Linked DNA regions of Homo sapiens. The protein of the gene in region 2 purifies or fractionates together with the protein of the main gene of each other region. This does not show direct contact. Each region holds a gene or a part of one and is shown on either strand. Other genes may lie near its edges.

The links. The genes of interacting proteins can lie anywhere in the genome.
Region 1: the proteins of ZMYND8 (region 2) and CHD4 purify together in Homo sapiens (affinity purification with mass spectrometry; 7 studies listed by BioGRID and IntAct, with this or other methods). This does not show direct contact.
Region 3: the proteins of ZMYND8 (region 2) and TSPYL1 purify together in Homo sapiens (affinity purification with mass spectrometry; 5 studies listed by BioGRID and IntAct, with this or other methods). This does not show direct contact.

Annotation. Positions count from the first base shown.
Region 1 is NC_000012.12:6,604,378-6,612,349, forward strand, and holds the start of CHD4 (chromodomain-helicase-DNA-binding protein 4), read right to left. Parts: upstream 3,003-7,972; 5' UTR 2,923-3,002; intron 2,075-2,922; 5' UTR 1,997-2,074; coding exon 1,897-1,996; intron 1,619-1,896; exon of another isoform or gene 1,509-1,618; intron 1-1,508. UniProt on the Homo sapiens protein: ATP-dependent chromatin-remodeling factor that binds and distorts nucleosomal DNA. Acts as a component of the histone deacetylase NuRD complex which participates in the remodeling of chromatin.
Region 2 is NC_000020.11:47,234,688-47,241,705, forward strand, and holds part of ZMYND8 (MYND-type zinc finger-containing chromatin reader ZMYND8), read right to left. Parts: intron 4,452-7,018; coding exon 4,071-4,451; intron 1,830-4,070; coding exon 1,639-1,829; intron 1-1,638. UniProt on the Homo sapiens protein: Chromatin reader that recognizes dual histone modifications such as histone H3.1 dimethylated at 'Lys-36' and histone H4 acetylated at 'Lys-16' (H3.1K36me2-H4K16ac) and histone H3 methylated at 'Lys-4' and histone H4 acetylated at 'Lys-14' (H3K4me1-H3K14ac).
Region 3 is NC_000006.12:116,276,929-116,284,335, forward strand, and holds the start of TSPYL1 (testis-specific Y-encoded-like protein 1), read right to left. Parts: upstream 3,003-7,407; 5' UTR 2,903-3,002; coding exon 1,589-2,902; 3' UTR 1-1,588.

The DNA.
Region 1 (7,972 bases), on a different chromosome or scaffold from region 2:
GCTAGACAGATACTAGGGAATGAGACATTAGGCTGGACAAAGCACCATCAGCCTCCCTGCTTCTCAGCCCAGAATAAGACCAGGCACAAGAACGCCCCTCCCATTCCCCCTTGGGAATGCAACATCAGCCTGGATTTCACCAGAAAGAATCATTTTCTTAAGGACTTTTCCCCACCAATCCCCAAGTCAACCCCCAACCCCCATCAGCTACATCTCACCACCCCCATAAAAGCTGGAAGTGGAGACAAAGACAACCCATGGAGGCAAAGGGGACATCCTTCCATGCACATGGAGCCCCCCAAACTTCTCAGGCAAATAATATGCTGAAATGGCAAACCGCAAACTTACTGAGATATAGAGAAGATTTAGGAAAGGGACAGGAATGGGGTGTGGCAAGTGGAAAAAGTGGGTCATGCTACAGCTCAGGACAGAGTTCACAGCTCCTGCGCAGCTCCCGGTCAACATGAAAGGCAGCCCCAGCCCAAGTGGCCAATGGGAGGCCAAGACGTGGAACCCAGAATGTTTAGGCAGCACTACTGTTTCTCATGCCCCTCTCAGAAGGACAGGGTCCCCTTACCAGCACCACAACTCCGCCCTCACCTTGGGCAAGGGCATGGAAATCTGCCCCCTACTCTACACAAGGATGAAACCAAGTTTCTCATCCCAACAGCCCAGACTCCATGACAACACTAACCCCTCTCCTAAATGGCCTCAGGTTGAAGTGAAGAATTCCAACTTAAAAAGTGCCAAATGTGAAAGCATCTCTCCCAGACCACCTCAACTTCCACTGAAGCTAAGAAGAGAGAAGGCAGAAGTGAATGATGCTGGATGAGAAACAAAAACAGGATCAGCAGGCTCCAGAATGAGAAGAAAACTAGAAGCAGAAGGAATGAAGAAATGACATGTAGAAAAAAAAATTAAACTAGAAAACATGAAGGTCAAGGAGATGAGTAGGTGACACAGCTAGGGGCTCTGAAAAAGGACACAGAAGAGAAAGACATCTGCTTAGGGGCATGACATCAACCATCATTTGAGGATAGACAACAGTTCCCCCAATCAGACAGGGTGGTTACAACCATACGGGTTTGGCCAGTTCATGAAGCCACCCCAAAACACAGATAGCGTAACCCCTAGCACACCTACACAGACACTTCACACTGCCAGCCTAAACCGCAGGCTACCTCATAGAGACAGAAGCCACTAGGAAAAAAGCCAAAACTATGTCCACTCACCAGGAGGAGGAGTGCCCTCCCTTCTTTTGCCCCTCTTCACTAGGCTATTACATCCTCCCCGAGCCCCCATCACTTCCCCACTCAAAACATTCCAGCAATCTGCCTGGCTGCTTTAAGCACTCCAGATCCTGCTGAGGAGCGCGATTCAAACTTCACACAGTTCAGACAGCACAGAAAACCGGTAACCGATCAGAAGCTAAAAATAATCAGATAGAGTGTAACCAGCACTCCCTCTTTCCTTTCCACAGCAGCAACCACAGGATCCTACTAGCACAGATGCCCGGCTGGTCTTTCAAACAGAATCCTCAACGCCCCCCTCCACCACCACCACCACAAGCCTCCAGGGGTCCCAGCTACCTGCATTCCTCCGAGGACCCACATACCAGGTAATGCCTGCCAGCCCAGAGAGCTCCCTCAACTGGGAACTGCAGAGCATTCCTCAAGACAGAGTGCAGCAAGCTGGCATCTCCGTGCCCAGGAGGCACATGGCTTCCACCCCCCTCACACCAGAGCTCCGCAGAAGGGAACCACTCCCTTCGGATACCCTCCACCTCCGGCTCTGCACAGAGACAGCGGAGCAACACAGCCCTGCCTCACCAGAGGAGTCACTCGGGAGAGCCCCAGATGTCTCCTTCCCGCCATGGGCCCTTGGGGAAGATGTTACCTGGGTGGGGTGGGGGCAGGCTGTTGTTCAAAAGTGCATCCATATCCTCCTCCTCACTGCCCGCCGAGCAGGGGGACGGGGAGCCCAGGCCCGACGCCATCCCCTTCCGCTCCCGGCCAGGGAATTGGCCCAGCTGCTCCTGCCGGCGGCCTGAGGACCTCTACACTGGCCCGAGTCACTGTGCGGGGGAGGGGGGAGAAACACAGAACAGTCAGTGACGCGCACTGTCCCCCTCCCCCACACCCACCCGCTCTTTCCGCCCCCCACCCCAGCCACCCTAGCAGGGCACCCGAACCGCTCAGGCTGAACTTAGTTCCACACTCCTCGGGGGCAGCCCGGAAGCCGGCTCCCCGGCAGGCGCCCCCACGGAGCGAGGGAGCGACGCCTCCGAGGGCAGGCTGGTGCAAGCGCGGGGAGGGGAGACGCGGGGCTGGACCGAGCGGGGTGTGACGGGGGAGGGGGTCCGAGTGGCAGCGGCGCGGGGGGGCCAGGGGAGGCCGCAGGCGGCGAGGCGCTCGGGGACACAAGGTCACTTGGGGGTGGGGGGGCGCCTCCCTGCGCCCGGGGAGGGGCCAGTCCCCAGACAGGGCAGCTCTCCAAAGGCTGTCCTCTGGGACAACTCAGGTTCTCCTCAAGAGCTGCGGGGACGAGGGGGCGTGGAGGCTCGGGCGCTGCGGGGGGCCGGAGGCAGGGACGCGGGGGGCGAAAGCGTCCCACCGGGAAGGGGGCCGGGCCACGTGTCCCGGGGGGCAAGTGATCAAAGGGCGAGGGGGTGGGCGCCGGGCATTGTGGGAGACCAAGCCGGAGGCGGGGGGTCGCGGGGAGCAAGACTCCGGCAGGGTTAGGGCGGGGGCTGGGGAGGAGGCCGGGCGCCCTGCAGGGCCAGGAAAGGAAGGGTCGGCTCCTCTGGGCAAGGGGCGGTCCGCGGGTCCGGAGACGCCTGAGGAAGGGGCGGGTGACGGGATGACCCTCGGGGCTGGTAGGGCCGTGAGGGGCGTCTCTTTGGGAACCCCGCGCTCTCCTCACCCCGGAGCCGCCGCAGGTCGCGCTGGGTCCGGCTCGGTGTCACTCCCGCTCCGGCTCCTCCTCGCCGCGGCCGAAGGGGGGAAAATGGCTCCGGCTCCAGCGTCGCCTCTTAAAGGGCCTGAAACACCGGCCGGGAAATCCCACCGCACAGGCCCCGCCCCCCCACGGACAGCCCATAATAACCTCAACCAACTCCAACCCCCCCCTTCCACTACCGCCACCCTCCTCCCCAGGTCTCCCGGGCAACCCCCGCCCCCTCGTCGCTCAGGCAACCACTGGCCACGCCCCCTTCGCAGCGGGCGCGCGCGCGTCACCTGGGCAACCGCCCACCTCCTGGCCATCCCATAATACACACGGACACCCCCCCCCCCAACACACACACACACACACACACACACACACACACACACACACACAACACACACACACCCTGCCCCCCCACATTTCATACACATATGCCAGAGACTGCTGACATCTCAAAATATTGCAGACCTTTTGCAACTAACCCTCTTAGACATCCCATAATAGACATCCTTTGCCAACTTCTTCTTCACTCTTGGACCTAATGCTAACATCCCATAATAATTCATCACCCCTCCCTCCCCATGGCCATCCCATAATAAGCACCCCTCGCAGCACTTATGCCTCATATCCCATAATATTCAGCCCCATCCCCCACAGACATCCCATAATAACCATCCTTCATCCACCCCCAGTTTGATATCCCATAATAGTCAGAAACTCACCCCCCCCCATACTACAACAACGGACACTCGGCCTCCTCCCACACACATCCCGTAATAATCAGTCTCCCACTTTCTATACTGACATCCCATAATAACTAACCCCCTAGAGCTGCCCTCAGTCCCTGCAGGCCAGGGTCTAGAGGCTCACATCACCCCCAGCCTTCCCTCTTCTAGCTCCACAGCCTATAGTAAGTACCCCTCCTCTATCAAAAAGATAACCCATAATGATCAACAGCCCTACTGTCGCCCCACAGATGGACATCTAATCTCTTTTCCTCTAACACTGGAAAGCTATCCCATAATAATTTTACTCTCCTACCCACATCCTGACATCCCATAATAATTGCAAGGAGCCCGTGGTCAACCAAACATACCATAATACTCCCAACACAACCCAGTGTCACATCCCATAATGCTTCATCTCCACTCTACCACCCCTATACCCTTCGAGCCAGGCATCCCATAATATTCATATTCTTCCCACCCCCATCTCCAGGCGCTGTCAGTCTATTCTAACACCCAGAGCAGGGAGGGCCAGGCAGGCTACCCACGCTTCCTTGTCCCCGCCCCCACTTGCACACACCTTAATCCCTTTCTGGGCCAAAGTAGTATCCTGGCAAAAAGCCTCCTGATGTCTGGGACCCCAGCTTCCCTCATACCATCATTTCCAGACACTCGGGGGCTGGGAGCCCACCTAGGGCCCCACCCAGTCCCACCAAAATCTAGGTATTTTCCAGATGCTTACCTCCAGCTCCTAAGTTTTGAGGAACACCAACCAACCAAAATACCAAGCTGACAGATGAAACATTTACATGAAGTCTAATTCACCCTACAGCATCCCATAATAATTACCAACTCCCATCCAAAGACTATCTCTCAACATTCTAGCAATCCTCCCCCTCACCACATCCCCAGGTCAGGGATCTTTCACCAACACCCCCAGGCCATTCCTGGGGATGGACATCCCATCACGATGTGAACTCAGGTTCCTGCTCTATACACACCAAGAGTGAAGGCCTGCCCTCCCGCTACTCACCACTACTCATGTTCATTCAACCTGTGTTGACAGAGTACCTAGCAAGGCCGAGCTCCGCACCATGGAGAATCAAGGAAGACCAGGGGGCCTCCCTTCAAAAAGCATAAGCAACCAAGCAAACTATGATACACGACAGAATGGTGCCAAGGGAGAACTGCTGAGCACTGTTTCCCAATTTCCTGTTACAGAAAATAAAATCCCACTGGTTCCAAGAGAGAACATATCCCAATAAGATTTATCGTGGTCCTTCTAGAGGCTGGAAGATGATACTTAAAGGATTTATGGGTATAGACCATAGTCAACATGATCTCCTATCTGTTCCCTACTTACTAGGGGATTTTTCTTGGAAAGCAATGTTCATCCATCCAGCATTCCTAATACTGAAATCCTATAATATGTTCATGTCCTTCCTTCTTAAGAGACTCCACAATATACCAGCATTGTTTCCCTCATTCTTGAACACCAAATCCTGCTTATCCTCAATGTCCCATATTTTTCAGGCACTTTCCCATTTTATATCCTGAAGTCTCATAGTATCTCCAATGGCCTCCATCCTCATCTTGTTGGGGCCACATTCTCCACCTCAAAAAAAAAAAAATCTTTAGTTGTATAATGTTCCCCATCTTCCCCTGCCTGTATAGAAGTCAATATTCCAGCGGGGCATGGTGGCTCATGCCTGTAATCCCAGCACTTTGGGAGGCCAAGGCAGGTGGATCACAAGGTCAGGAGTTCAAGACCAGCCTGGCCAAAATGGTGAAACCCCGTCTCTACTAAACATACAAAAATTAGCCTGACATGGTGGCACGTGCCTGTAATCCTAGCTACTCAAGGGCTGAGGCAGGAGAATTGCTTGAACCCAGGAGGTAGAGGTTGCAGGGAGCTGAGATTGCACCACTGCACTACAGCCTGGGCAACAGAGCAAGACTCTGCCTCAGAAAAAAAAAAAAAAAAAAAGAAGTCAGCAGTCCAGGAAACCTTCTACATTGAATTATGCCCCAAGGTAGCCCTCCAGCGTATACCATCTCCTTCCCTTATTATGCATACCCTCCAGCCACCCTATGGACCCAATCCTAGAAGCTGAAATAACCGAATTTTTTTTGTTTTGTTTTTTGTTTTTTTGAGAGACAGGGTCTCAGTGGCGCAATCACAGCTCACTGCAACCTCAACCTCCTGGGCTCAAGTGATCATCCCACCTCAGCCTCCCACCTGTAGCTGGAACCACGGGCATACACCACCACACCCAGCTAATTTTTAAATTTATTGTAGAGACGGGGTTTCACTATGTTGCCAGGCTGATCTTGAACTTCTGGACTCAAGTGATCTTCCCACCTCAGGAAAGAGCCTAATTTTTTTTTTTTTTTTTTTTTTTGAGACGGAGTTTCGCTCTTGTTGCCCAGGCTGGAGTGCCATGGCGCGATCTCGGCTCACTGCAACCTCAGCCTCCCAGGTTCAAGTGATTTTCCTGCCTCAGCCTCCCGGGTAGCTGGGATTACAGGCATGTGCCACCATGCCCGGCTAATTTTGTATTTTTAGTAGAGACGGGGTTTCTCCATATTGGTCAGGCTGGTCTCGAACGCCCAAACTCAGGTGATCCGCCCGCCTCGGCCTCCCAAAGTGCTGGGATTACAGGCGTGAGCCACTGCGCCTGGCCAGGAAAGAGCCCAATCTTAAAACCCTTTGGCCCTCAGAAAACCTAACCCATCAGCCTGTCACTTTTCCCTTTTCCTGACTCCCAGAGATTCAGGACCTGAGTGAAAACCAATGTCCCAGCACCACTGCCTTGCTGCCCTAACCCCAGGCCAAGGATAATGTCTCCCTCTGCTCATGTACCTTTTTTGCATGGGTCCAAGACCTATGGAAGTGGGACGAGTTGAAAAGAAACTTGGACTTCCTTGTAGAAAGGGCCCTTTACTAACCAGTAGTGAGTGGGATGAACCTCATGCCATCTCTGCATTACCCTTCTCATCTCATTTTCCTAGAGGAAGGCCTGGCCAGATGGCTCTCCCCTTCTCTAGGATCCAAGGGACTGGAGAACTGGTACAAAGAAATGAGTTCAGGGAAGGCAAGAGCTTGCCTCAGGGAATTACAATCCCCCTGCTCCTGAGCAGAGCACCAGGGATGCAGACAAGTCTTCCGCTAGCTCCTGGCTGACTCTGTAGACCCACTAGCATTCCACATTTAACTCTCCTCATCTTAGGACTGGAGTTTTTGGCATCAAAGACATCAGGTCCTGTCAAAAGCTCCCTGTCACCTTTGAAGTAGGTGTTTTCTTTTTCCAACCTTCCCTTCAGCTCCCTGGCCCACCCTCTTGCTGCACTCATTGTGGCAAGCGGGCCATTCTCCCCCGTTCTGCAAGGCTTCCAGTTTCCCTCGTTAAATGCTCTCGACATCAAGACTGGGCCCCATTTACTTACCCAAGCCCTCTCCCATACTTACTCTGAGTACTAAGAATGAAACTTGTGTTCCACAATGGGGGGTGAGGAGGCAGCTCTTTTCAGATACCATGATGTGGGGACACCTCCTTTCAGGGAAGTTTCTCCTTCCTACAGAGGGCTGCCAGATGCCTATTGTGCGCTCTTCTACCCTCATTTCTCCAGGGGATCCAGCCTGTCTCTGGGCCTCAAATTCCCTTCTGCAATATCTCCATCTGCCCATACCCATACTCTCATTTCCACAGTGATCTGTCCATATAAACCAGTAAGAGAGCGTTTGGGTAGTCACAGCCTCCTGCCTGTGACTAAAAATATCCACATTTTATTTATCCATATATCCTTTGTCCACTACTCACCCTGTGTCCCTATTCCTGTAGGTTCTACCCACTTCTTCCTTTGCTGCTCTTGCTCCCCACCTCTCCCTAACACCACAACAAGGAGAAAGTTAAAATCCCTTCCTCTCTTCTTGAGTTCCAGAAAGGGCTCGGAGGTGTGTGCTGGTGTGTTGCTTTGTAGTCCTTATGCTTCTACGCTTCCCCTCCCTCCTCTAGCCCCGTGCTACCCTCCCAGATAAATTATAAATAAACCACTAGCATGACTGGCCCAGGGAGACTAAGGGTGGCATAATCTCCTAATTAATGCACCCAGGAGGGCAGCCTCTCTAGCCAGTTACCTTAGAGTTCTGTTTTCATCCCATGGTACAGAAGAACCTAGAACAACACTCAGAGTGGGTTGTTCATGGAGTTTTTAGCATTTGCTCTATAATTCCTCTCCTTACACCTCTGTTTTGTGTGAACCTGAAAAACTCTGTTCATAAGAGGTCCAAGGGGCCACAG
Region 2 (7,018 bases):
CTACACAGAAGAAATAAAAAGAAACATGACCAATGAAAACTCATTTGTGTAAAAAAAAAAATTCATATATATTTCTCTCACCACTCAGAATTTTAAAAGATTCCTCTTCCCTTAACTCAATATAATAAAGCTAACTCTTTATTATTAAGACTATAAGAATTTTAGAAACAGGCTGGGTGTGGTGGCTCACACCTGTAATCCCAACACTTTGGGAGGACTAGGCAGGAAGATCACTTGAGGCCAGGAGTTTGAGACCAGCCTGGGCAACAAAATGAGACCCTGTTTGCATTTTTTAAAAAGAAAGAATTCTAGAAACAACCATCCTCAATTATTTTCATCCATTCTAAAAACTAGAACTGTTTACTCATCAGTATTAGTAATCTACTCATCAGTAAAGAATAAATTATTAACTACTTAGTAATTTACTAACTAATCTCAGTAGATTATAAATCAATAGCTATTATTAAGTTATTGATAATAATTGAAGCCAATAAAAACAAAGCCCAACTATGGGTCAAGCACTTACTACATGCCAGGCATTGTTCTAGGCCTTGGCAGTGAGCAAAACAGACAAAAATTCCTGCCTTTGTGGACCTGACATTCTGGTGGTTATTATTACCACCGTGGTCTAATGACAAGATACACAGCACATCAGTCCAGCGCACTCTCACATGACGCTGAGAACTGCAGATGGTATCTACCTGAATTCAACAGTGACCATAAAAGCACTTGGCAGGCCGGGCCTGGTGGCTCACACCTGTAATCCCAGCACTTTGAGAGGCCGAGGTGGGTGGATCACCCGAGGTCAGGAGTTTGAGACCAGCCTGGTCGACATGGCGAAACCCCATCTCTACTAAAAAAATACAAAGATTAGCCAGGCATGGTGGCGCGTGCCTGTAGTCCCAGCTACTTGGGAGGCTGAGGCAGGAGAATTGCTTGAACCCAGGAGGCGGAGGTTGCAGTGAGACGAGATTGTGTCACTGCACTCCAGCCTGGGGAACAGAGTGAGACTCCATCTCAAAAAAAAAAAAAAGCACTTGGCAACTTAAGAGAAAAAAAGAAGGGGCCTGTGCTGAGACAGTTCCCATGAGTTCACCAACAACAGGCAATCCTGCCCACCATGCCACTTAATGGGGACTGTGCCCCAGAGGGCAGGAGACAGGGGAGAGGGAGTCCCCTTGGTCCCCCTCCCCATCCATCTTGATTCCTGGAAAAATCAAAGTGTGGGCATCTCACCTTGCCAGTCTCATGTTTAAGTCTCTGTCACTTCTGCTCCACATGCAAAGCTCTAAATGCAAACCAAACCCCTGGTCAGCTGTTCACTGAAGGATCAGTCATGTGTTCCAGTGCCTTAATGAGTGACTTGAATTCTCGAAGGTAATTCTGATTATGTCATTTGCACTTTATGAACTGACTTTAGAATCTAAGCCCACTTGGAGTAAGATTCAGTCCATTCTACATTTCTCTGTTAGACCCAAATTAAAGAACGTGGTCTTGGAGATTCTGTTTTTAAAAAAAAGGGTCTTCACTCCCTAAAGACTGCAAGGTTAAGACGCTCACGCTTCCCCTCGGGAGACCAAGATTCTGGCATCCTGCCAGGTGTCTGCCATCTCCACGGTAGCTCTCCCATCCACTCACTTTGCTAGTGTACTTGGCAATATCAGCGGCGACATCAGCTGAGGCAGTGGCGATGGGCAGGTCAGCGTTGACTGAGGACACAAGGGTGCTCATGGACCCCGAGCTGGTGACCAGGGGCGATGACTGTGTGCTGGTCACCAGGGTGATGGTGGACGTGGATGGGCTCTGTGTGATCTCCTTCTGCTGGACAGCTAGGAAGGCAAAGCATCCTGATTACCCCACGTGGGAAGGACCCATCCCAGCACAAAGCTGTGGTGTAGAAGCAAAGCCCCTAATAGACATCCTGAGAGCTTTTCTACTTTTAAATGACAAAGATGCTCCCCTTGACCAAACTCTATCCAGGTTTCTCAACTAGGCCCTAACCTTGGCCTGGAAAGACTTGAGCAAACATTGACAGTTTCTAAGAGCTCAAGAGTGCATGCTAGGATGACCCCAACCCCCTCTTAAAGCGACTGCCTGGGAAAACTCAATGCTGGCAAAAGAACTGACAGTTTTGTTCCAGCCAACACCTGAAGACAGGACCTCAGCATCCCAGTGTCTATGGGAGAGTAGGGGCCCAACTTCATGAAGTGCCCGTTAGCAAATCAAGATGTTTAACTTCCCTGACTCTACTGAGGCCCAACTCGCTCCCATCCCTACTCCCTCATTCTCCCTTTAAAATGTCCAGTCACCCCTGTACAAATCAAAGTTAATTTCAGCTTATGCTAGACTCTTGCCCCTATTACAGTAGCATATTACCAATTTAAATTGGTCTTTACCCCTTTAACTAGGCTTTACTTTGGCGTAAGACAATCTGAAGCAATGAGCCACTTTTTGGCAGCGCTCTTTTTTTTTTTTTTGACAGTCTCACTCTGTCGCCCAGGCTGGAGTGCAGTGGTGCAATCTTAGCTCACTGCAACCTCTACCTCTGAGGTTCAAGGGATTCTCATGCCTCCCTCCTGAGTAGCCAGGGTTACGGGCATGTGCCATCATGCCCGGCTAGTTTTTTGCTTTTTTTTTTTTTTTCCATTTTAGTAGAGATGGGGTTTCACCATGTTGACTGGGCTGGTCTTGAACTCCTGGCCTCAAGTGATCTGCCTGCCTTGGCCTCCCAAAGTGCTGGGATTACAGGTGTGAGCCACCACGCCCGACCCTCTTCTTGGTAGCAATTAAACTCCCCTGGGGAAGTCTCCTGCTTATGAGATATGAAGACAGAAGACAGGAAGCCGCAATCCCAATCTCAAATATCCTAGACTCGGCTTTGCCCCACCAACTTTTTAAATAGCAAGATTAATCCAACTGTACTCTCAATTTTGCCTGGCCAATTCTTCAGGACCCACTCCCTCGCCATCTGTGAAGGGTTTCACTGGGGGCCAATTCAAGACCTGGCCACCTTTCAACCTCACATTCTGCTGCTCATGAGCCCCCCTCACAGGGGCGCATTCACTATGAGTTTCAGTTGAAGAACCCAGCCTTTGAGGATCTAGATGCAGGTTTCCTGGTAGAAAGATCTACATCAATGCTCACAAAAGCCAGGCAAACTGGTACCAACCAGTCAGATCAGCACTGTGTTTGGCCTAATTTCAGCTCCAGATGGAGCCTCCTGCAGGACTGGTGGGAGTTCTGATTCTGCAACTTCAGCAAGTGGTTCTTGAGGCTGGCTCATCTTGTGTGTGTGACGAATCTCCAGTTACTAAGGTAACCTTCGCTATCAACTTCTCGCACTGTACTTTTTCCAAAATAACTCCAAGAGGTTCCCTCATGTGCACAAGGAAATTTATACAAAGATATTCATTGCAGCACTGCTCACAGTAGAAAAAAAACTGAAAGCAACCTAAATGCCCATTAGTAGAGGAATGCTTTAAATAAACTATGAAATACTATGCAGCAGTCCAAAAGAACAAGGCAGGGCTGTATGTGCTGATGTGGATGGACCTCCAAAACATGCTGATGGGTGGGGGAAAAAAGCAAGTATGGTACCATTTTTATGTTTTAAAAAAGAAAAAAAGGGGGGAAAAAGGACTAATTTTATGGCATCATATACATGATGCGCACATATATACATACAGATATGTATATATACATATACATGCATACATGCATAGAAAAGCTTTTACAACGGTTGATACTGGCCACTGTGGAAGGGAAGAGAATGAAATGGAAGGTAAACGGGATAACAGACTTTTATGTAAAACTTTCTGCCCCCTTTTTAAGGAGAATATATGCATGTATCATTTATAAAATGAACAAAAAAAACTTTTTGAAAGTAAAAAAGCAAGTAGCAAAACAATTTTTAAAAATAATGCCAAATGGAATGTGCAAGGCCTTCAAGATACAATGGCCCGGAAACAAACGAGAACTAAAAAAAAAAAATAAAAGAGCAATGACTTTCTCCTGTCGATGTGGCAAAATGGGAGCGGGCGCCACGGAGAACAGAAGGGGAGGCTCGGTACCTTTCACAGCCTGTCTGGTCTGATATCTCGTCCCCTGGGAAGACTGAGGCTGCTGCTGCTGGTTTTGCTGCTGCTGCTGCTGCTGCTGACGCTGCATCTTCTGCATGTGCCACTTTTGGGAGGACGTTTGAAACTTACTTGATGAGTTCCACACGACCCGCTGCACGGCCGGGGCAGTCTCCTTCGGTAAAAGCGGCCTCTGCTTTTTCACTGGGCTTCCTGTGGCGGCGGGGGCCGGGGCCGTGACGGTGACCGTGGAGGACGTGCTGGTGGTGGCTGTGGCGCCAGCCGCGGAAGTTTGGGCGGAAGAGCGGGTGAGCACCGGTGTTTCCGGGGGAGAATGGCTGCCCACCGTCGTGGATGGTGGAGTTTTACCTACAACTAGCCAATGCATGAAGAAAAAACAAACAAAAACCGGATTTCACTCAGGTTCACCTGCACGGTCTTGACGCCACCAAGTTCTGGGTAAAACCTATGAAAGCCAGGAATGCCGAACCAATTCGACGTGCCAAGCACACCGCGCTGGAGGAGTACATTCTCACCTAACGCTGAGGCCACTTCTGCGGCGTCTTCCATCTCCGCGAGCAGCGGCCTCCTTTACTGAGCGCCGGCCCACATCTGAGATACAAGTCAAGACCTCTAGGGGAGAATGAGGCAAACAAGACCCGGCTCCTGCGCTCAAGCTCCCCTACACCTAGTGGACAATGCGGTGGGCGAACAGATTCAATGTTCACGCCCTTTTCGCAAAGTTAAAATCTAGTCGGCACCTTGAGAAGGGCCCAGCGGAAGTCAATCCAGACAGGAAGAGCAATTCTTTGGCTAGGGAACGTAGAAAGCAATACCTCCAAAGAGCCAGATGGCCTCCCAATGGCCAAAGCAGTAACACTCAGTCACCCAGAAAGAAAAGTATTCTTTTCATCTCTTCTGATTCCCTCCAGGACAAAGTTTGAAGGCGGTACTGATAGCCAGGACAATACCAGGAAAACAAATTCTGCCCCAAGGCCAGAACCTTCCCCCAACGCAATGGTACTGATCTAGGATTGAGTAGCATTGCTTTGGTTTTGATTGGATTTATTCCTATCACCAGCTTTTATGTATACTGTGTGCTACTGTTCTTATTGGGTGGTGTTCAAGTCTAAAATGAGTTTATACTTGCAGATGCTTTTTTCAGGGGAAATTTTTTTACTAAAAAAATGAGGCCAAGCACGGTGGCTCACGCCTGTAATCCCAGCACTTCGGGAGGCTGAGGCAGGCGGATCACTTGAGGTCAGGATTTTGAGACCAGCCTGACCAACATGGGGAAACCCCGTCTCTATTAAAAATACAAAAAAATTAGCCAGACGTGGTGGGAAACTGAGGCAGGAGAATTCCTTGAACCCAGGAGGCGGAAGTTGCAGTGAGCCGAGATCGCGCCACTGCACTCCGGTCTGTGAGAAAGAGTGAGTGAGACTCCGTCTCAAAAAATATTACTAATAGGCCGGGCGCAGTGGCTCACGCCTGTAATCCCAACACTTTAGGAGGCTGAGGTGGGCGGATCACTTGTGGTCAGGAGTTCAAGAGCAGCCTGGCCAACATAGTGAAACCCCGTCTCTACCGAAAATACAAAAATAGCCGGGTGCGGTGGCAGGCGCCTGTAGTCCCAGCTACTCAAGAGGCTGAGGCAGAAGAATCGCTTGAACCCGGGACGTGGAGGTTGCAGGGAGCCGAGACCATGCCATTGCACTCCAGCCTGGGTGACAGGGTGAGACTCCGTCTCAAAATAATAATAATAATAAATGAAAAGTAAATAAAATGAGTTTATTTTATTTATTTATTGAGATGGATTCTCACTCTGTCACCCAGGGTGGAGTGCAGTGGCACAAACTTGGCTCACTGCAACCTCCGCCCTCTGAGTTCAAGCGATTCTCCTGCCTCAGCCTCCCGACTACGTGGGATTACAGGCGCCTGCCACCGCACCCAGCTAATTTTTTTTATTTTCAGCAGAGACGGGGTTTCGCCATCTTGCCCAGGCTGGTCTTGAACTCCTGACCTCATGATCCATCCGCCTTGGCCTCCTAAAGTGCTGGAATTACAGGCGTGAGCCAACGTGCCCGGCCTATTTTATTTTATGTTTTAAAGAGATAGAGTTTTGCTATATCACCCCGGCTGGGCTCAAGCAAGCCACTTCAGCCTCCCGAATAGCTGGGACTACACGGGACGTGCTACTGTGTCCCGCTTTAAATGAGCTTAATTTTATTTTTAAAGAATGAGATTCTTGGCCGGGTGCAGTGGCTCACGCCTGTAATCCCAGCACTTTGGGAGGCCGAGGCGGGCAGATCACGAAGTCAGGAGTTCGAAACCAGTCTGGCCAACATGGTGAAACCCCATCTCTACTAAAGATACAAAAAATTAGCCGGGCATGGTGGTGTGTGCCTATAATCCCAGCTACTTGGGAGGCTGAGGCAGGAGAATCGCTTGAACCCATGAGGCAGAGGTTGCAGTGAGCCGAAATCGCCCCATTGCACTCCAGCCTGGGTGACAGGGCGAGACTCCGTCTCAAAAAAAAAAAAAAAAAAAAGATTCTTTAAATAAAAAAAGTCAAAAATTATACAAGCAGGACTTGAGAACGGGAAAGACAATGAATGTGAATGACTCAAGTTTGAAAAACGCTGCCATATGGAGTATGTCATCTTGGAGGAGCTGGGCTGGTGGGGAATAAAGGGTAGGATTTCAACAGGCGGAAAGTGAGAATCTGGAGGGAACAGCATCAGCCAAGATATGTCTAGGAATACAGAGCATTTGAGTAAGTGAGGGCAGGCAGGGAGGAGGGGCTGGAAGGGAGGTTAGAGCCAGAAGCACTGAGCAGCACGTAGAGGCGATGACCACACGGGAGCTCATTTGTAAAGGTGGCTCAGTTATGGATGCACAGGCCTCAGCCCCCGGTAAGGTGAGCCTATGCCCCAGAGAGG
Region 3 (7,407 bases), on a different chromosome or scaffold from region 2:
TGAAGGCAATTTGACAAGCCTAACAAAGACCAAGTTGTTCAAACTATGTTTCTAGGAATATAGTTTAACAGAAACAAGAACAAGTTGAAAACTGTTATGACTATTCATATGTCTCTATATTGTACAGGCAAGTAAGACTGTTGTTCTTCCAAATGTTCCCAATTGAAATCAAAAGAATATCTGTACAGCTCAATTTTCACAATAAGTTTAGAATCAGAAAAAAAAATTTTACTAAATCCTAATGAAATAACAATCTTCCACATAAATTAGGTCACAAAACAAGTAAGAAAGCATTCAAAGTTGCGCTGTCTTTCTTTAAAGAACCCTTGTCTAGGCAACATATTTAACACTTTAACCCCTTCAATTCTCCCTGAAAAGTATTTTTCCATTCATCATCATTGGGGAGTAAGTACTCCTTCCTCGAAAGCTCTTAACGACAGCACAGTCTTCACTCTAGGCCCAATTTTTACCTGGCCCATGCCTCTAGCCTTTTGTTCAGTTTCTCCTGCTTAGGGCACCTTTCATCCCATCTAGATGTGTCTCTCTTTAACTATTCTAGGAGTTGATAAAAGGGCTAGGAAGTAGGAAGTTGGGAAGAAGGGGAGGGGCGTAAGAGCTCTAGCACTCTATTTTACAGGCCAACTTCTTTGCCTCTGAAAATGACAGAGCCAAAATGAAATAAAAACCTTGCTTTTACAAATGTTTCTGAGCTATCACTTTTTTAAGAGAGGATTGGGAGGCTAAGGAGGGCGGATCACGAGATCGGGGTTCGAGACCAGCCTGGCCAGCATGGTGAAACCCCGTCTCTACTAAAAATATAAAAATTAGCCGGGCGTGGCGGCGCGCGCCTGTAGTCCCAGCTACTCGGGAGGCTGAGGCAGGAGAATCGCTTGAACCCGGGAGGTGGAGGTTGCAGTGAGCCGAGATCGCGCCACTGCACTCCAACCTGGGCGACAGAGCAAGACTCCGTCCTCCGTCTCAAAAAAAAAAAAAAAAAAAAAAAAAAGGAAAACAGGGAGAGAGAGGGACCTTGGCAGGAGCCAATGTAGGGCAGGTAGCAATAGAAAGTGACTAGAGGTGAAGGAAGAGCAATGAAGTACCATAAATCACACAGAACAAGTGGCTCACTGCTTTTCTCCTCTGAGTTCATTAACGTCCAGTAACTGTCCACAGGGCATGTGCCCATACTGCTCAATGCAGAGCTGAGTAGGTGGAACAGGCTCCCAAAGCTAGAAATCCAAGTGACAGCAACCAGTTCAGAGGCCCTGGGAATAAACAGGGTCCAAGCAGTGCAGATAAAGGCAGTACAATCTACAGTATCATTTGCTTGGCTTACAAGTAGTGTGAAGGATGACCTCGTAGCATGTGATATTCCAGAACAGCATGAAGGTCATATGGAAGTGGAGAAGCATACCCACCACCGTCTCAATCTTGAGGTTGAGAGAACTGAATATCCAAAGGAAACAGGGTGCAGAAAAGTCAGCAAAAACAAAGCACAATAGAAGGCATACTCATTGCTGATGCCCAAGCACAGGTCCAGCAGAAGGTGGTAGGAGACCTTGTGCAGGAGTATTCCCAAGGGCAAATGTTAACCAGACTGGAACCCAAAGGGCCTGGGGATCTCTACAGGCTCCCTTAGCGGGCGACGTCGGGCTCTACGGACTCCTTCACGCAACAGGTAGTATTGCAGTGGATTTGGCCACAGATCCTCTTTAATAATCTCAGCAATTTTGTCGGACTCTGGAAGGCTGTGGTCTGAAAACCAAGTGAAGAAGCTGCAGATGAGGTCTTGGTTTCTGCGAATGAAGGACTGGGGTTCATGCCCCCTGCGCCATATAATTGGAGTAGAAAGAGACACCACTCGGCCGGAGGATCTTACCTCATATTCCTTGACAATCAGCTTGTTTCTGAAGTAGGGGTTTCTTCTAAAGAAGAACTTGAACTTGCAACCGGTTCTAGGGTGTCTGAGTTCCTTCACCTCTAAATTGGTTATGTACCTTAACATCTCTGCATCTTGGCCCCTAATCATGGCGGACAACTGGGGGTGGTTTCGAAAAGCAGTCATCCAGAAGCCCGGGATATTCTGAATGATGTAGTTCCTCCGCTCCAGGTAGTGTCGACGCATCCGCCCAAACTTGTGCTCCAGCTGTTGGAAGGCCCTGTCGGCCTGAGCATTCACAGTGTCCAGTTCCAGCTGGATGGCCTCCAGAGGGTCCATGCGGAGAGCCTCATGCAAAGGCCAGGGCCCTTCTTCCTCCCTCGCCTCCTCCTCCAATCTATCCTCCTCCGCCACTTCTATTTCTTCACCTTCTGGCGGCTGCTCCTCTACCTCCATCTGCTCCTCCATTACCTCCTTCTCCGCCAGGCCTTCCTTCACCACCTCAGCGCTCTCCCTCTCAGCCACGGCTGCTGAGACGGTGGCGCACTTTCCTGTCTTCACCTCCTCCGCCTCAGCCTCCGCCCCCGCCGTCAGCTCAGACGCGGATCTCTGGGCGCCACAGATTTCTAGGGCCTTCTCTCCACCCTGAACGCCCTTTTTCAGGCTGCGGTCGGCTGCCATCACCACAGAAGCGGCTGCCAGGCCTTCGGCGGGAGGCTGGCCCTCTTCCTGCCCGGCTTTGATCGCCACATGACCGCGACCCCCAACAACTCGGATCTGGGGAGTACCGCCACGGCCCGCGGCATCCTGGGGTACGCCCCCCTCCTCTGAAGGCGGTGGAGGCGGGAGCGCGACGGTCTCCGAGCCTCCCTCACCCGGCTCCGCCATCACCTGTGTCGCCTCGCTTTGGTCGCGGAGCCTCAGGTACTGGTGTGCGTCCTGGTCGCTCGGGACTTGGTCAGAAATAATGATGCTGTGGGTTTGGAGGGGAGTGGTCCTCTTGACCCCATCCAGGCCGCTCATGTTGCTAACAGTCGGACCAACCGCAGGCGAACGCCCGTTTTCCTCAGAGGCCGAACTGGGAGCTAACCGCCGCTCGCACCGCCCACCCTACAGTCTCACTAACATTTCAGCGGCGGTGTCGTCAGGACTGGAGATCTCACGGTATCGCGAGAACTTGCTGAGCCCGGGATTGGTTCCGCCGCTCCCTGCCAGCCAACCGGATTCTCTGGGCTTTATTTCTGTGAATTTACCCATAGCAACAGTAATTTTACCTACGTAAATAAATGTCGATTGTGCTGAGTCTGGAAGCGCGGACGACCCACCTTGAGATGCATCTAGCGACTGCTCCCAGCATGTAGGAGCAGTTGTAAAATCACAGCCGTAACAGTGCCTGCTCTCCAGTGTCTGAAAACAAATGTTTTTCTGGTCTTCACTTTTTTGAGGCAGGAAGGTAAATCTATTCCCTGTTACTCCACGTAACTAGCAGCAAAAGACTTCTCTTTAAGATTAATAGCAAAATGTTTCCCCCCTTCTTAGTAAAAGTGACATAAAAATATCAATTCTTGCCTCTACGGTTACTGGGGAAAAAAAGCTACTCAGCAGCCTCTTACCACTAAAGCGATGCATAGTATTCATTGCTAATTTTCGATTTATAATCTGCATCAAATAAGAGTTTGTGCTGCATAGTATCGGTAGAAATTAAGCCAGGATCAGTTTGCTAAATGTTCCATGCCTTTTCACTGCAAGAAAGAGGAAATTATAACTATTTCCAGCCCCAAGAACTTAATTTATTATCATATTTAGTTATGTAAGATAGGAATGTTTGGCTCTAACGAAGCATCTGTCTTTAGCAATCAGCTGAGTTCATTAGAGGGGGATGTCAATGTCTCTGGTTGAAGTGTTCCAGTTTGTTGACTTGTGAGTTAAACTGGTGCTGTCTTAGAGAGCTACAAGGCCTCAGAGAAATATCAGTGGGGGGAGCCACATACCACCATTTTGTGAGGAAAGGCTAGTTAAAATGGACAACTAAGATGGCCTTGAAGTAGAAAACAAACTTGCAAAGGGCAACATGCAGCTGGTGGACTCAAGGTATAAAAGAGGCAAACGTTATTTTCTACTTAATTTGCTTTGTGTGGTAGTAGCCTGATGGCCCTCAAAGATGTACCTGTCTTAGTTATGCGGCCAAAGGGACTTCGCAGATATGATTAAGTTAAAGATTTGGAGATGAGAAGATGATTCTGGATTATACAGGTGGGCCCTATGGAATTACAAATTTCTTATAAGAAGGAGGCAGGAGGGTCAGTCAGAGAAGATAAGAGGACGAAAGCACAGAGAGAGGGAAGGAATGGTGGAGAATAGGTGTGGGAGGGAGGAAAGGGAAATCGCTATGTTGCTGGCTTTGAAGATGGAGGAAGGAGCCAGGATCGTAGGAATAAAGGCAGCCTCTAGAAGCTTGAAAGGTAAGGAAATAGATTCAATCCTAGAGCCTCCAAAGGAATGACAACACCTTGAGGTTATTACCTCTAAACTCCAGCACTATAAGAAAATAAATTTGTGCATTTTAAGCTATTAAATTTGTGGTAATTTGTTACAGAAGCAATATGAAATGAATACACCTTGGATTAAGGTTTGGTTGCATCTATGGGTGCCTCAAGTTGTTTCTAATAGCAGCCCCTTCTACCTTGCTCATGGCTTCCCGTGAGTTCCTGCCCAACAGCTGTGATGTATTACAGCTTGAATCTGTCTTTCAATATCAAGACCAGAAATATACTTAGGCAAATGCACAGAAAGACAAAATTAAAGCCTAAACATACCACAAACGATATCTGAGGAGACTGTAAACTGCAAGAGGACATGATCATGGTTTCGTTTCCCTCTGTTTATCGAGTGCCTAGCACACTACCTTACACAGTATCCCATAGATTATTAAAATGTTAAATAAAGGAGCAAATGAGCAGAAAACAGTTTCTCTTGCTTGCAACTTGCTCCTTGCGGAAGAGAAGTAAGGGGCATATGGGTTGTCACTCTGCTCTCCTTCCTATCTGCCACTGGCAAACCAGAGGGCTGCTCTATTCTATATAGTAACAGTTTCCTACTCAGGAGAATGAATTTCTATATATGTTTCAAAGGCTCTAAAAGGATAGGAAAAACACAGAGAAAACAATTTTATTTTACAAATAATTTAAGTTTGTGTGGTCACACTGTATGACAAACGAACTCTGAAAAGACCAGCATATTTAGGTGAGTTTACATATCAAAGCCTCGGACTACCAGCACTGTATTTCCAATTCTCTCCTTTCTGAAAAAGTCAAGGTAATCATTTCAGGCTTTACTTCGTTTCTGTCTACAGAAATATATAATGCATTTCTCTCTACAAGTGATGGAGCCTGTGATGCATGGCTGGAATTACTTTTGGTGTAAATAAAAAGGAATATTGGAACTTTCCACAAAGACTGTTTCTAATTGCCATGAAATCATCTTCTATTTTGAACTGGTATAATTTCATTCGGCCTAAAGTGGAAACTTCTATTATTCCAATATGTCTCCTATTTTTTTTTAAGCAGAAAGGAGTGTCAGGCTTGGACCAATCTTAGAATATATGGCTTTATTTGTCAAAGAAGCCATTATGTAATTAATGTAATTAACACTCTTACCAGTAATGCTAGGAAAACTCTAATTAGGATCATGTAAGTATAATCAGGACTCTGCTGAATGTAATTTCCCCCAAATAACGTTGAGACTCTTTAAAGGAACTCTTCCTTCTCTTCTTGTCGAACATGTATAAAGCTGTGATAAGGAATATTTGAATATATAGAGAACGTGATTTAAAATTAGAAGTAATGTATCTCATGTTCTCTGTGTATTAGAAGAAAATTACATTAGAGAAGTGATTGTGATTATAACTATTCCTTGTAGGTGATGGAAAGCTCAGGTTATGATTGCTTTCGGACAAGTGCTCAGGAGAAGGGTCAGTAAAGGGCAAGGATTTTAGAGGGAAAAGCAAATATGCATACTTTATGTCCTATTTTTTTTTAAAGAAAGAATCTTTGCTTGGAAGGAGGAACTCTCTAGGAATGTCAACATGCACCAAGGCTCACGTGCTCAGGGAGTTATTTTGCCATACAGGCAAAGCTGTGGTTGCTATTCAACACAGAATATTGTACTTATTATAGTAGGACTATTACTTGTGGATTTTTTGTTCACCTTTTTGTATCTAAAAAGGCTTAAAAAGGATACCTGTTTCTTTTACATGACACAGGTTATCCTGCTATCTGGGAATTCTCTTTCTGGGTAGATGTTACACATTCTCTAAGACTTACCAAAAACCTGTCTTGCTTTAAAATGTGCTAGGCATTTTACATGCATTAAAGTGTCAAATTTCATAAAAGAGGAAACAGTAACACTGAGAGGCTAACTAACTTTACCAAAGTCATACATAAAGTAACTGGTAAATTCTTTCTCCCTTCTCCTGAGTGCATCTTTCCTAAGTAGCCTATGGCTCCTTAATCTTCCTCACCTGAATTCCTGCAACTCTTTTATGAGCTGCACCATGCAGTTTAGCACTTAATTGTGCTTCTCCTCTTAGGGACTAGTTGATTTATATGTGTCAGTCTCATCATCCCAGCATTCCAGCATCATCTCATGGGATGGGAGCATAGTTGCAGCTTCTTTTGCATTTATTCATCATAGCATGGGGCTCAGGTTTGGGTAGATTCTTTGTTGTTGTTGTTGTTGTTGTTGTTGTTGTTGTTGTTATGGAGTCTCACTCTGTCGCCCAGGCTGGAGTGCAGTGGCATGATCTTGGCTCACTGCAACCTCTGCCTCCCAGGTTCAAGCAATTCTCCTGCCTCAGCCTCCCGTGTAGCTGGGACTACAGACACTGGCCACCACACACGGCTAATTTTTGTATTTTTAGTAGAGAAGGGGTTTCCCCACGTTGGTCAGGCTGGTCTCGAATTCCCGACCTCAGGTGATCCGCCCGCCTCAGCCTCCCAAAGTGCTGGGATTACAGGCATGAGCCACTGCGCCCGGCTAGATTTGGGTAGATTCTTAACAATATTTGTTCATTTGAATAAAATAAACCTCAAATTATCTTACAAAAACAACAGTGTATCTGTACTGGCATATTTTATTTGCAGAGGAAATACATTTTGGCTATGCTTCATATATCACCTTTTTTGCACTTTAAAATATAGGATAAATTGGTCCATGACAGAGCATTTCTGTAATTGACAATAAACTTCACTACCCCCAAAGATAGTTGAATCTTTTCTAATACAGTTCTATGGGAAAACATCTGCAAAAAACCCTGAGGTTTTTCTCCATAATATCAAGGAATCATAGATTCTTTGGGAATGATTTCTCAGGTAGCAAGGAGTTTAGCGGAAGTTCAGACATTTTTGTTTTGCAGAAAGGTAGGTTTTATCATTATAATTAATGATAGCTTTCACTTATTTACTGCTCCTGATGTACCAGCCACTTTTATAAACAACATCCAGTGTGTCACATCTTTTAGTTGTCATAAG